2 linked regions of the Homo sapiens genome follow. The protein of the gene in region 2 interacts with the protein of the main gene of each other region in a biochemical or structural test. Each region holds a gene or a part of one and is shown on either strand. Other genes may lie near its edges.

Region 1 (3,750 bases), on a different chromosome or scaffold from region 2:
TTAGACTTTTTCTTCATATTCAATTTGTTCACCTTCTCTCTTTCTTTTTTGAGACAGAGTCTCACTCCATCACGCAGGCTGGATGGAGTGCAATGGCGCAATCTCAGCCCACTGAAACCTCTGGCTCCCAGGTTTAAGCGATTCTCATGCCTCAGCCTCCCAAGTGGCTGGAATTATAGGGGCATGCACCACGCCCAGCTCATTTTTGTATTTTTAGTAGAGACGGGGTTTTGCCATGTTGGCCAGGCTGGTCTTGAACTCCTGACTTCAGGTGAGCCACCCACCTCAGACTCCCAAAGTGCTGAGATTACCAGCATGAGCCACCATGCCTGGCCCTGTTTTCTTTAAACACTAGTTCTGCACATAGCATTAAAGAGAAAGCTCAGAAAAAATAAAGTCTATCATAGTGACTATATCACTAAGAGAAGATGAAGCAGAATATGAAAAAATAAAATTTACTGTTTATTTCTTTGTTACACAAAGGTGGTCCAAGACATCTTAGTCCATCTCCTATGTCCTTTTGGCCATAATTACACACACAATAATGGCAAGCTAGATTAGGAGTCTAGCTCAGGGTCAAGTTTTTCCACTTTAATGACTATCTCTGGAGCTAAAGCGGCAGCACCAGCTTGTTGGTTCTCTGCCTCTGACTCCGACAACACTTCTTCCTTTATTTTTACAGGCTTATTACTGGCCTCCTCCTCTTCATCTGAAGACTCATCGAGCTCCCATTCATCATCTATGTCCATTTCAAATACTCTCACATGACGAAGATTTGAGCTTAACTAAAAAAGAAAAGGCCATAAAAGCATTTTTAAATTAATGGCTTATCATATATAAAGAATTAGAAATCAGAAGTCTGAATCAAAGAATGGTTTTATAGGAAAGTTATATTCCCATCAATTTACAACAAAATCAATAAATTCAGCCTTCATTTTGTATAAAAAGATCTCCACATAACAACAGTGGCAATTTCGTGAGATTAAAATCTAGTATTATTATTAACTACTTAGTAAGCTTTATCAGAACAAGAACTAAATAGCTAAGGCCACCACATGATCATAATCAATACAAGCTATAAATCACAGTAAAAATATTTGCACAAAAGGACCTTATATATCATGTATTTGATGAAGGTTCCAAAGAAGCAACGTTACTTCTTGTAATTTCTTAGTTGCTGAACGATCTCTAAACACTTACCACACAGGACACTTTTCGAAAACCATTCCCAGCAACATACTGTGCTTTCATACTTTCCAGTAATCTCCAGTGCTTCTCAAAATGCATGGTACGGGTGGGAATAGCACTACACTGTTCATCTAGCCTAAAGAGGGAAAAAAACCAACTCAGGAATGAAAAGGGGATCTTATCCTCCCTAGTTTTACTACAGGTGGTATTAGGGTCAATTATGGTTTTGACTTCTACTCATACTTCTATTTCCAATATAATTTTAGCAACTGTTGTGTTAGAAAAAAAGCTGTGATATAATATTCTATAAAAATTCCATATTCTATATTCTGGCTAGGCACAGTGGCTCATGCCTGGAATCTCAGCACTTTGCGAGGCCAAGGTGGGAGGATTGCTTGAGTCCAGGAGTTCAAGGCCAGCCTGGGCAACATAGTAAGACTCTATCTCTGTAAAAAAATAAAATTAGTCAGGCAAGGTGGCACATGCCTGTAGTCCCAGCTATGAGAGGCTGAGGCAGGAGGGTCACTTGAGCCCATGAGTTGGAGGCTGCAGTGAGCTATGATTGCGTCACTGCACTCCAACCTGGGTGACAAAGAGAGGCCCTGTTTCAAAAAAAAAAAAGAAAAGAAATACTGTAATTCCAAACAGGCAGAATATCATCTTAGCAAGGTTTCTGACTCCCTTTCAAAGAAAGCAAATGGATACATTTTTAAATTAGAGATCTGCTTACTTAAGTCTCAGTCAATTAAAGCCATCTCTTGGAATTGACAGTATACTTCCTACATGGGTACTGAGGTCTTAATTCTGGAAGGAAAATACTGAAGGCAAATCAAAAATAACTAATTCCAACCAACTAGGGTTAATGCTATCCTTAAAAATGTAACTAAAAGAAGTCCCATTATCCACTCCAAATAATTCCCCACCTTGATTCCAGCAAATACTTCCTGATTTACTAGTAAAGCAAAGGGACAAAAAAAGCTATTAAGGCCAGCATATTTTGAATGAAAAATTGGAGCATTTCTGCTCAGCTACCTCTGTGGTTATCTCTAGTAACGAAATAACCATTATCTAGCGTACCTAAAAGGTTGGAATTTATAATGTGCATTAAAAAAACATTTAACTGTAATATCAGAAAGACAATGTTACTAGTTACCTTGTAGAATAAGTCCCAGTGAACTGATATTCTGCAGAATCTTCACTGTTATATACTAAAGACAAAGGCAGCTGGACCAAGAGTCTATCTCTTCCTTCACGTCCTACAGTGTCTTTAAGAACTACTGTTACAGTTTCATCATCATAAAACTGTGCATCTAAACAACTGTAGATGCTAGAATTAAAATAAGTTTTGTTATATCAAAGATGATCGTGACTACTGAGAAAATATTGTATGCATGTTATACTGGCAGCAAGCAGAAAAAAATTTAAAAGTTAAGTGACATTCTGTACAATAACATTTAAAATATATCATTGGTTTGTATTAAAATCAGTTACTTTTTGTACTGATTATTCACATATATAACCAAATCTTAAAAATGGGTAATCATGACCCCCAAAAATCTGTGAAGTTGTTTCAGTTCTAGAAAGCCCCTGGCCATCAATGGTTAGGCCTTAAGCCTGTGGAAATTCTATGAATGACACCTTATATACACATTCAGCAGAGTTGACTAGACTGAGAAATAAAAATAAGATACTACACATGAAAAATAGGCACAGCAACTCCAAGGACTTTATCATAAAAAAACTTATTTTATGTGAGGAAAAAAGTGAGAAAAAGATCAGCCTATGATTAGTCACTTCTTTCCCTTGCGAAGCCTCAGGGATGGCTTAGGTACTGTTACCATTTTGAATCCTAAGAAAATCTCCCATCACTAAGAATGGCATCACCTCATAATTTTTTTTGGTCGTAACAAGAACTTCAGCCCTGCAGGCCATCTGCCCATGGGAACCACATTACTTTCTTTGTCAACAGGGAGCTCAGGAGTATTAATTATAGGAAACCGTACGACATAAACTGCAGGGCAGTAAGGTTCTATTCAATCACAAGTCAAATCATTCTCTATGTATAAATACACAAAGAATCCTGCCCTTGATGTGGGAAGTGGCAAAGCCCTTTTACCTATATTACCACCGTAACTGAGTCTGATCCTATTCCTAAACATATACACATATCACATGTATCTACATTTCATCCAAACAAGATTCAAGACTTACCTTCTTCTGACTTTTTCTGTTGTGGCATATGTAAAGCTCCCAAATTTAATAGCAATTAGTCCATTACTCACAGATCTTCAAGAAAGAAGGGGGAAAAAAAGAGACTCTGTGGAACAACCTGGATAGTCAATAATCTAAAGGCTTAAAAGAACATGATTGTCAGGGTCAGTACATGTACTTCTTTAGAACACTGAGAACTTGTTTAAATGCCTAGATAGATAAACCAATTTGGTTTAAAATCACACAGTCACCAAAGACATTTGGAATAGAAATAACCCAATTATTTCTTTTTGGTTACATCGTGGTCTCAACATTTTCTTCAAATTCAGGTTTAAAACCATTTTTAAGCTA
Region 2 (3,750 bases):
GGGAGAAATTGGTAACTTAGAGAAGCATCACAAAGAGTGCTCTCTGAACTTCTGTAACTTTTACCTAATTTTTTATACTAAAAGTTTATGATACAGGTTTTGGGGTTTGTAGCTTATTTAATCTACTTGTTTCTCTCCACAGCAAGACAGATCGGCTTGCCAAAGGATCAGAATGTTACCAAAAGAGCCTTAGTTTAAATCCTTTCCTCTGGTCTCCCTTTGAATCATTATGTGAAATAGGTAGGTGGGTGGGGTTGAGAGGTGGGTGGGTTCCCATCTCCTCTTCTTTTTTTCCTGCTACTTAATTTTTGGAGAGCAATACAGATCATCTACCCCCAAGAAAAATATTTTTCAAAGTTAAAATTGAGAATAAAAAATAAGTTAGAATCTTCGGTATGTTTCAAGAATCATATAACTGAAAATTACACAAAGATTAAATCCAGTAGATTCTTCTGTTGAACCAATCTATTTTCAAGTATCTGGTGTCCTCTAGAATGGGTTATATTGTGTGTTTAACACTAGCAAAATTGCTTTCTGAATAAGAAAATTAATAAAATTTCTAATGCAATTAATAAATGCCTGAAACTTACAAGACCTGAACAGTACAGGGAGAGAATTTCTCAGTATATTTGGCCTAGGATACATAAAGGACCATTTTTCAGCATTGTTGCATCTATGTATATATAGAAGGGCTTCAACCTTTACTGTAAAATATGATGGGTTTTAACTCTTCAACCTCATCTCCTACTTTGAGAAAAATGAGATCTAGTTATTTTCAGCTTTAAAACAAACACAGAAATCTGCATTTTTCTGCGATTTGTTATGTTTAAAATTAGTGTTCTTGTAGTTTATTTTCATTTACAGCTTTATCTTACTGGTAAACTTTTATGATATATTGATAGATGGGTTTTTTGGGGGTAAATTTGATTAGCAGAAGTGGACAGGAGATTTTTAAAGTTTGGATAAGGCCTATTTCCTGTTTCCACTGATTTATGCATACTTGAAAAACATGTATTCCTCACTTCCTCAGAGACAAACTTTTTTTTTTTTTGTCTTCACAGGTGAAAAGCCAGATCCTGACCAAACATTTAAATTCACATCTTTACAGAACTTTAGCAACTGTCTGCCCAACTCTTGCACAACACAAGTACCTAATCATAGTTTATCTCACAGACAGCCTGAGACAGTTCTTACGGAAACACCCCAGGACACAATTGTAAGTGTCTTATATTCTAGTGTTCAAAATATTATGAAAACTACAAAGAATGATCTGAACTAAATAATATATTGTGAATGACTTGGTAGAAATTTTCTGTTTCAGGAATTAAACAGATTGAATTTAGAATCTTCCAATTCAAAGTACTCCTTGAATACAGATTCCTCAGTGTCTTATATTGATTCAGCTGTAATTTCACCTGATACTGTCCCACTGGGAACAGGAACTTCCATATTATCTAAACAGGTTCAAAATAAACCAAAAACTGGTCGAAGTTTATTAGGAGGACCAGCAGCTCTTAGTCCATTAACCCCAAGGTAAGTCAAACAAGATACTTTCAAATGTGCTATAATACCAAATGATCTTATGATAACTCATATTGTTAGTAATGCAGATTATTACAACAGCAACTTCTAAATCACTGTGGAAACAGGGGCATTCTGTTTTCAGAAAATGAAGTAAAAACTGGCAAATAGTGATGTTGCCAGGTGCGGTGGCTCATGCCTGTAATCCCAGCACCTTGGGAGGCCAAGGCAGGCAGATCACCTGAGGTCAGGAGTTCAAGAACAGCCTGGCCAACATGGTGAAACCCTGTCTCTACTAAAAATACAAAAATTAGCTGGGCATGGTGGCGGGCGCCTGTAATCCCAGCTACTCAGGAGGCTGAGACAGGAGAATTGCTTGAACCCGGGAGGCGGAGGTTGTAGTGAGCCGAGATGGAGCCACTACACTCCATCCTGGGCGACAGACCAAGACTCCAACTCAAAAAAAATTGATATTGAATATTGGACTGGCCAGGCGCAGTGGCTCACGCCTGTAATCCCAGCACTTTGGGAGACCAAGGTGGGCAGATCACGAGGTCAGGAGATCGAGACCATCCTGGCCAACATGGCGAAACCCCGTCTCTACTAAAAATACAAAAAACTAGCCGGGTGTGGTGGCACGCGCCTGTAGATCCAGCTACTCGGGAGGCTGAGGCAAGAGAATCACTTGAACCCGGGAGACAGAGGTTGCAGTGAGCCGAGATGGTGTCACTGCACTCCAGCCTGGGAGACAGGGCAAGACTCCATCTCAAAAAAAAAATTGGAGGAAAATTTAAAACTCTGAAATATTCCTTAATTAGGTAGTAAACACATTAAAAAATACTGTCTTTATGGCTGTGCATTAATGGATAGCGGTGAGCCTCATGAAATGTTATAATCAGGGCACCACTGGTTACTGTTAAAGTGCCTTTTTCCAAAACATGGAGGAAATTTGACACCTACCTTTTTTTGTTTGAGACAGGATCTCACTCTGTCACCCAGGTTAGAGTGCAGTGGCACAATCATAGCTCACTGCAGCCTCAAATTCTTGGGCTCAAGCGATCCTCCCACCTCAGACTCCTGAGTAGCTGGGACTGCAGGCACATGCCACCACACCTGGCTAATTTTTTAAGTGTTTTTGTAGAGATGGGGTCTTGCTGTGTTGCCCAAGCTGATCTGGAACTCCTGGCCTCTAGTGATCCTCCTGCTGTGGCCTCCCAAAGTGCTAGGATTACCGTGAGCCACTGAACCTAGCTGTCACACCTATTAATATAAAATATTTTATCAAAATTATTAGAAGTATATGTATGTATAAATACAGGAACTCAGCCCAGAGGATACATATCCAAAAGTATCAAAATGAAAAATTATGTGCTAGAATGGGTTGGGCATGGGGGCTCATGCCTGTAATCCCAGCACTTTGGGAGGCTGAGGTGGGCAGATCACTTGAGACCAGGAGCTCAAGACCAGTCTGGCCAACATGGTGAAACCCTATCTCTACTAAAATTACAAAAATTAGCCCGGCATGGTGACACATACGTGTAATCCCAGGTACTTTGGGGGTTGAGGCACAAGAATCATTTGAACCCAGCAGGTGGAGGTTGCAGTGAGCTGAGATCATGCCACTGCACTCCAGCCTGGGCAACAGAGCGAGACTCTGTCTCAAAAAAATATATACATATATGCTAGAAGAAATTCTATGAATCAGGTCCTGAGGCCGGGGAACTACTAAAATAGCATGACCATGAGATTACAACTCTGGAGAGTTATAGTTATCTAATGGTCTCTAGAGACATTTTCTCTGTAGTTGTGTCTAAATCCCATAAATTCCAAGAATTTGAAGTAATCTCATCATTTGGATCTTAGATTTATAAAGCTACTCTTCTTTATTTCTAATAAATCTCCTGAGATCAGTAATTGTTGCTCAGTTTAGTTCCTTGTTTGATAGCTTTTTAAAATTTTAGTTATGGTGGGTGGAATAGTCTACATTCACAGCTTATTTTTAATCTGCCCCTCAGATCCTCACTGTCCCTAAGACTGATTTGCCATTCTCTTCCTTTTAGACCTTCTAATTTAAGTATACTGCTGCTTTATATATGCCTTGATGACTTTTTGACACCTTGATTTCAACCTCTTCTCAGTTTTGGGATTTTGCCATTAGAAACCCCAAGTCCTGGAGATGGATCCTATTTACAAAACTACACTAATACACCTCCTGTAATTGATGTGCCA

What was found.
Region 1: the proteins of CDC27 (region 2) and ANAPC4 form a complex in vitro, tested with the Homo sapiens proteins (2 studies listed by BioGRID).

Annotation. Positions count from the first base shown.
Region 1 is NC_000004.12:25,415,190-25,418,939, reverse strand, and holds the end of ANAPC4 (anaphase-promoting complex subunit 4), read right to left. Parts: intron 3,541-3,750; coding exon of another isoform or gene 3,534-3,540; exon of another isoform or gene 3,475-3,533; coding exon 3,400-3,474; intron 2,516-3,399; coding exon 2,342-2,515; intron 1,325-2,341; coding exon 1,201-1,324; intron 786-1,200; coding exon 558-785; 3' UTR 442-557; downstream 1-441. UniProt on the Homo sapiens protein: Component of the anaphase promoting complex/cyclosome (APC/C), a cell cycle-regulated E3 ubiquitin ligase that controls progression through mitosis and the G1 phase of the cell cycle.
Region 2 is NC_000017.11:47,154,696-47,158,445, reverse strand, and holds part of CDC27 (cell division cycle protein 27 homolog), read left to right. Parts: intron 1-142; coding exon 143-240; intron 241-1,061; coding exon 1,062-1,216; intron 1,217-1,321; coding exon 1,322-1,533; intron 1,534-3,581; exon of another isoform or gene 3,582-3,659; coding exon 3,660-3,750. UniProt on the Homo sapiens protein: Component of the anaphase promoting complex/cyclosome (APC/C), a cell cycle-regulated E3 ubiquitin ligase that controls progression through mitosis and the G1 phase of the cell cycle.